Linked DNA regions of Homo sapiens. The protein of the gene in region 1 purifies or fractionates together with the protein of each later gene. This does not show direct contact. Each region holds a gene or a part of one and is shown in the gene's direction. Other genes may lie near its edges.

Region 1 (3,652 bases):
TTGAAGTATCACCATAATAAATGTAAAGGTGTGATGTTTATAGAGATCTGAGCGTGAGTTTGTCTTTAAGCCAAAAAAGTTCTATAAATTGCTTCACTCTTAAAGAGTGTTGAAGCATACTTAAAATGTTAGTTGATACCTTAGCGAAGAATTGAAAAACTCATTCATCAAAATTAGCCATTGTATCTTGTAAGACTTTGTATGTTACTTTTAACTATAATACTTTGCCAAAGGGTTTGCAGTTTTTGCAGTTGAATTTGTTTTGCAAACTGGTTGGTTGAAGTTTCAGCACTTGAACAATTTAAAGTGCTTGATGCAATTTTAAGAATGGATTTTGTACTTATCAGGTTTTTTAGTTGCTGGATACTTCAGCGAGATCCTTTATTGTATAATAGTGGTATGTATTTTTTATATACATATATGAAATATATAATCGTGGTATGTATGACTAGGACTATTCATATTTAGCAAGTATTTTTTGACCCTGTATTGTATGCCATATACTGTTTTAGGTATTGGGATGTAGCAGGAAAGAAAAAGTTACTTGCCCTCATAGAGCTTGCATTCTGGAGGACCGTTCAACACATAATCTTTTCATGGTGTTTACATTGACCACCAGTATTTCTAAAGAGTTGAATTTGGAAGGAACTTTAGGGTGTCTTGGCTAACATTGCTGACAGATGGCCATTTGGTATGTGCCTGAAATACATCTAGAGGTGGGAAGCACGTTAGTTAGAGGCAACCTGTTCACTAGATTTGGGACTTGAGTGTTTTAGCAAGATCCTTGAAGACTCAGTTTCCTAAACTGTAACAGGGAAACACTTGTTTTTCTGGATTATTTCAAGGATTAAGTGAAAATTTATCTTTTTAAAGCATGCAGCCTTACAGAAATATTTAAGGTCGTTGAATTATTCAATATCCCAAATTGTTAGAATTCTTCATATTGTGACCAAAATCCACCTTCGAACCATTGCTCCAAGTTTAACCCTTTGGAATGGTACAGAGCACACGTGTATGCTAACCCTTTAAAATATAAAGACAGTTGTCATGATTTCTGAGTCTTCTAGACTAAAAAACTCATACGGTTTTCAGATTTTTCACATTATATCTAGTTTGTCAAATGTCCAGCTTAAAACATAGGGCCTAGAATTAATAGCTAAAATAGTTGATTGGAAAAATCTAAAGATTTTAAAATATAATAAGTGTATTGTTACTTTTTAGGAACGGTTAATTGAACTCACTTGTACAGATTAATGGAAAAGTTTTATTTATTTTCAGAATTTATTACTTGTGGTAAGTGGCCCATGTTCTTTAATGAATGGACTGCTGTGAGTTCCATGAAGGCAACTGGGCTGTCTTATCCATCATTGTATTTCTAGTGCTCAGCACTGTATCTGGCACAAGTACACTCTTAATAAATGTTGAATAGGTGTAAATGAAGGGATGCTGGAGTTTACTGAACATACAAAATATTAATGTGGGCTTTGTATTACAAACTTCATTCAAAATATTTAATACAGACCATGTGTAATGCTGTAAGAAACAGTGTAATATTTCCCCAGCCTATGCAGAACTTACATATTAATGAATTGTCAGCGTAGATATTTTCAAGGAAATGCATACACATTCAAAATAGTATTGAAATCGTGGTATGAAGATGAAAAACAATTTTAAATAAGCTGAAAATAGAGATAGGGTTTCACCATGTTGCCCAGGCTGGTGTCAAACTCCTGGGCTCAAATGATCCACCTGCTGCATCAGCCTCCCAAAGTCCAGGGATTACAGGTGTGAGCCACCACATCCAGCCTGAAGCTTTTTTTGATGTCAGATAAATAAATCCTTTTCATTTTAGTGATTTCCACTTCACAACTTGTTCTTTGTCTTCATTTGAATCTTCAGTCCTCGGCTCATGCATTTCTTTTCATCAGTTCCCTCTTAGCTTTACTTTTTCCCCTGTATAATCTGTTTGCCGTATTTTCTTTACTACTTGACTGTTGGGGTGTGGAAGGTCACGTAATCTTGCTGACTGGCCCTATAATAAATGTGAGGGTGTGCTGAAAAGAGGGGAGGGTACCGTTTGTAGTGTTTTACTGTGTGCCAGGCATTGATAAATATTTAACATATATTGACCACCAAAATCCATGTGATAGTTGGAAACATTCCCATTGATGGATTGGGAAACGGGAGCTCTAAAAGGTTTTAAGCGATTTGTTCCAAGGTCAGCTTGGATTCAAACCCTAGGCTGATTTGAAAGTACATGCTCTTAATATTAAAGAGCATGGATTTTGGTTACAATATGAAGGTGGATTTTGGTTACAATATGAAGAATTCTAACAGCAGTCTATTCATTAAAGAACATGGGCCACTTACCACTTAAAGCATATGCTTTATTGAAATTTAGTTGGCATTCAGGGGCGCTGGCCACCTCACATAATGACCTGTTTTGGTGAAAAATCAGCTTCTGCTTGGGTATTTATGTGTTGGTTTCTGTTCCTTGGCCATTTTATCAGCATTTTGAAGATTTTAAAAGATGAATCTTCTAAAGATTCTTTCAGCTTATTTGTGTTTATTTGTAGTTTTTATGAACAATTGGGTTTAAATCTTGTGGATGTTTTTCCTACTTTGTCTTTACAAAGATTGGCTAAAAACATTTCTTGAAGACATTAATTACTCTTAGTTATTGGTGGTGGTTTTCCAGAATTATTTTGATCTGAAGTTACTGATGTCAGATTAAAATCCGTGCAAGAAATTATTATGTGTGTTTTGTTCTTTCTCTAAACCTATGGAAGTTCCATTCCACCAAGAAGCACAGAAGCATTCATTATGGAATAATAAGAACCTAAGAATCTGAAAAAGATGGGTGGACTCTAAATATAAATAAGAAAAATTATTGTTATATGTGGTACCTCTGTAATGGATTATTTAGTGTTTTGTCCTGAAAACTATAGTTCAAAAGTATATGAAATGAAGATATTCCGTAATGAAAAAAAAACTCAAAAAATATGCCACTGATTTAATATATACTTAATAGAAATAAGTCATGAAAATCCCTAGGTGAATGGAATTCTTAAAATGCTTTTAAAAAGTGTCAAAAAATAGGATACTAGAACAAATGGAGAAACTCTCAGAAGGGAATGGAAGTTTAGGTTAACTGTCTTAAATTTCCAAAGCTGTAATCATTATTTTCATTCTCAAAGTGATGGCCTTGTGTTTTGCTCCTTCTCTGACCAAACTTCACCTGACATTTACATCTACTCAGTCCTTATCACATTTCTTTTCCGCTAACGCTAATATTTATTTCTTTCCATTTCTATCACCATTTCAGGTTAATTAGCTAGACTTCATGTTACTGTGAACATTCTTCTCGTTTCATCCATTCTTCTCAGTTCATTCTGTATCAGGAGAGTTTTCTTAATATCTTTGTTTAGCTCATGTCACTCCCATTATATTAGAATTATTATTAGAATAAACCTAAACTTTTTTTTTTAGGGATAGTGTCTAGGTCACTTGCCCACCCTGGAGTGCAGTGATGATGTGATCATGGCTCACAGCAGCTTCGAACTCCTGGGCCCAGAGGATCCTCCTGCTTCAGCCTCCCGAGTAGCTGGGATTACAGGTGCATGCCACCATGCCTGGCTAATTTTTGTGTTTT
Region 2 (3,652 bases), on another chromosome or scaffold:
TTAAGTTCAAAGTATTTTTACTGAAAATTATCTTTTTAGGCTAGGCGAAGTGGCTCACGCCTATAATCCCAGCACTTTGGGAGGCTGAAGTGGGCAGATTACTTGAGCCCAGGAGTTTGAGACCAGCCTGGGCAACATACTGGGACCTCATTTCTACAAAAAAAAATCAAAAAATAAGACAAGAGGATCACTTGAACCTGGGAGGTTAAGGCTGCAATGAGCCATGATCACGCCTCTGCACTCCAGTGTGGGCAACGGGAGTGAGACTCTGTCTCAAAAAGAAAAAGAAAGAAAATTATCTTTTTAAGTGATAATCATGATGTTTTTACAGTAAGGATAACTTTTTTTCCCCTTCCTGAGTAAACAGTTTGTAAGGAAATTGAAACTTTTTGTTGTTCTGTGTGGACAAATTTTCATACGCAGTTACATTGTGAAAATTTTTGCAGGAAAACTAATTTTCGGCCAGGCATGGTGGCTCACGCCTGTAATCCCAGCACTTAGGGAGGCTGAGGTGGGTAAATCACTTGAGCTCCAGAGTTCGAGACCAGCCTGGGTAACATGTGCCTGTAGTTCCAGCTACTTGGGAGGCTGAGGTGGGAGGATCATTTGAGCCCAGGAGGCAGAGGTTGCAGTGAACTGAGATCGTGGCACTGCACTCCAGCCTGGGTGATAGAAATAGACTATGTCTCAAAGAAAAAAAAGGAAAAAAACATAATTTCCATATGCAACTACACTGAAAATTTTAAATGTGAAAAATACGTTTTCACGTTTTAAATCCTGTTTTTAGCTGTGCGTGGTGACACATGCCCATAATCTCAGCTACTCAGGAGGCTGAGGCTTGAACCTGGGAGAGGGAGGTTGCAGTGAGCCAAGATCATGCCACTTGCATTCTAGCCTGGATGACAGTGAGACTGTGTCTCAAAAAAAAAATCCTGTGATTTAATATTCATTTTTGTCTATTCTTACTTTCTTACTCAAGTTTTTGAGGCCTCAAATAATTGTTATAGTTGTTCAAAACTGTATTAATCTAAAGGACATTTTATCAAGAAAATTTTAATTCCTTTCTCTGTTCAGGAAACGATTATATATGGAAGTATTTGAATATACTCGCCCTATGATGCATCCTGAACCTGGAAAATTCTACCAGATTAATCCAGAAGAGTATGAACATCCAAATCCCTGGAAAGAGAGTTTCCAGCAGTTGGTATGAAATATAAATAGAATATATTGGTTTATATTATACATTTGTAAATAACTTTCTTTTAAGAAATAAGTTTAGGCTGGGCGTGGTGGCTCACACCTGTAATCCCAGCACCTTGGGAGGCCGAGGTAGGAGGATTACCTGAGGTCAGGAGTTCGAGACCAGCTTGGCCAACATGGCGAAACTCCATCTCTTCTAAAAATACAAAAATTAGCCGGACATGGTGGCGCACACCTGTAGTCCCAGCTACTTCGGAGGCTAAGGCAGGAGAATCACTTGAACCCAGGAGGCAGAGTTGCAGAGAGCTGACATTGCACTGCTGCACTCCAGCCTGGGCGACAGAGTGAGACTCTTGTCTCAGGGAAAAAAAAAAAGTTGAGTAGGTTTTAATGAACATTTATCAACCAACAGAATATTCAGCAATTCTTTTCACTACTGACATATCCCCCCATTAATAAGTTAGTACAGTAAGCATTAGTAGCCTAAGAGCAGTTGTGATTTCAATGGGTCTGTTTGAACTTGTATTTAAATTATTAGTGTTCAGCATTTGTTTTAAAGTTCCACATTTAGCTTAATTGTTATACGGCCCTTCGTGAGTGAGTCTCAGCTGGAGATGATTTTGCTTTCTGTGGGACATTTGGCGATGTCGGGAGACATTTTTTGATTGTCACAATGGGAGGAGAGTGTGCTGCTGCTATTTGGCTGGGTGAGGCCAGGGATACCTCTAAACATCCTACAGTGCACAGGACAGCCCCCATAACAAAGAATTAACTGACTTAAAATATCAGTAATGCTGAGATTGAGAAACCCTGTTCTTTGTTTCTGGATATTACCGGATCATAACTTGTTTTAGATTTTACATTGTACTCTGACAGAAAATTATTTGGAATAGTTGAGAATTATTTTTGATTTGTAATAAAAGTTGTTCATGCAATTGTACATTAATTTAAATATAAGGTTTATGTTAGTAGTCAATGGTTTTGTTTTGTTTTTGACATTTTAGTATAAAGGTGCACATGTAAAGCCAGGATTTGCTGAACATTTCTACAGTAACCCTGCAAGATATAAAGGAAGAGAAAATATGTTGGTATGTTTGATTTTTATTTTTATGACTTAAAATGGTAATCTTTCAGTTCTGTACTGACACATTTATTTTTTTCTAGTATTATGATACTATTGAAGATGCCCTTGGTGGGGTACAAGAGGCTCATTTTGATGGACTTATCTTTGTTCATTCTGGAATATATACTGATGAATGGATATATATTGAATCTCCAATCACCATGATTGGTGCAGGTATTTTGAAATGCATTGTCATTAAAATTTTAATATTTTACTCATTTATGTGATAGGATTTTAAAAATGCTAGTGACTTAAAATCCAGTTTTATAATATCCTGCTGGTAAAGTAGGAATGAAGATATCACACATATTTTAAGTGAAGGAAGTGAAAACATAAGAGTTCAGAAATTATAGCTGTATATAAATTCTTTCTCCCCGCCCCCCCCAACCTTTTTTGTTTTTTTGATGCAGAGTCTAGCTATGTCACTCAGGCTAGAGTGCAGTGGCACAATTTCAGTTCACTGTAACCTCTGCCTCCTGGGTTCAAGCAATTCTCATGCCTCAACCTCTCAAGTAGCTGGGATTATAGGCATGCACCACCATGCGTGGCTAATTTTTGTATTTTTAGCAGAGATAGGGTTTCGCCATGTTGGCCAGGCTGGTCTCAAACTCCTGGCCTCAAGTGATTTGCCCATCTCGGCCTTCCAAAGTGCGGGGATTACAGACATGAGCCACTGTGCCTGGCTGTATATGTTTCCTAATGTTAGTACTTTCTCCATTTGCCTTGAGTTATTCATTAAACGAAGAAAAATAGCTTTTTCATCTTTTATTTGAAAATAAAGATGCAGCCAGGTGTGGTGGCTCACACCTGTAAACCCAGTAGTTTGGGAGGCTGAGGTGGGTGGATCGCTTCAGGTCAGGAGTTAAAGACTGGCCTGGCCAACATGGTGAAACCCCATCTTTACTAAAAATACAAAAAAAATTAGCCAGGTGTGGTGGTGTGCACCTGTAATCCCAGCGACTCTGGAGGCTGAGGCAGGAGAATTGCAAAGAAAGATGCTAATATTTCTATTGCTATGTTTTTAAAGGAACTGAAATAGAATTTTTAAATACTTTTGTACTATTTCAAAGCTATTTATGGTCAGGTTTCTAAGAATAAATGTAATATCTGTCAAACACTGAGTCATTTGAAGATTTGTGGTTTTTTTATTTTGAGGATACAGTACATAGAACATTTTAAGATAGCTAGTAATTATTATTTGCTAGTGAAATTTGCATTTACAGCCTCTTTTGCTTTCTTCCTCTATCTCCTCATGAAGATGGGGAGAATAGATTAGAGCAAATGTTTGTCTGGTGATTTTATTACTTTCTAAATCGAGGCCACTGTTGG

What was found. The genes of interacting proteins can lie anywhere in the genome.
Region 2: the proteins of CDK13 (region 1) and FBXO11 purify together in Homo sapiens (affinity purification with mass spectrometry; 3 studies listed by BioGRID and IntAct, with this or other methods). This does not show direct contact.

The regions. Positions count from the first base shown.
Region 1 is NC_000007.14:39,953,115-39,956,766, forward strand, and holds part of CDK13 (cyclin-dependent kinase 13), read left to right. Parts: intron 1-3,652. UniProt on the Homo sapiens protein: Cyclin-dependent kinase which displays CTD kinase activity and is required for RNA splicing.
Region 2 is NC_000002.12:47,833,424-47,837,075, reverse strand, and holds part of FBXO11 (F-box only protein 11), read left to right. Parts: intron 1-1,074; coding exon 1,075-1,204; intron 1,205-2,204; coding exon 2,205-2,288; intron 2,289-2,364; coding exon 2,365-2,497; intron 2,498-3,652. UniProt on the Homo sapiens protein: Substrate recognition component of a SCF (SKP1-CUL1-F-box protein) E3 ubiquitin-protein ligase complex which mediates the ubiquitination and subsequent proteasomal degradation of target proteins, such as DTL/CDT2, BCL6, SNAI1 and PRDM1/BLIMP1.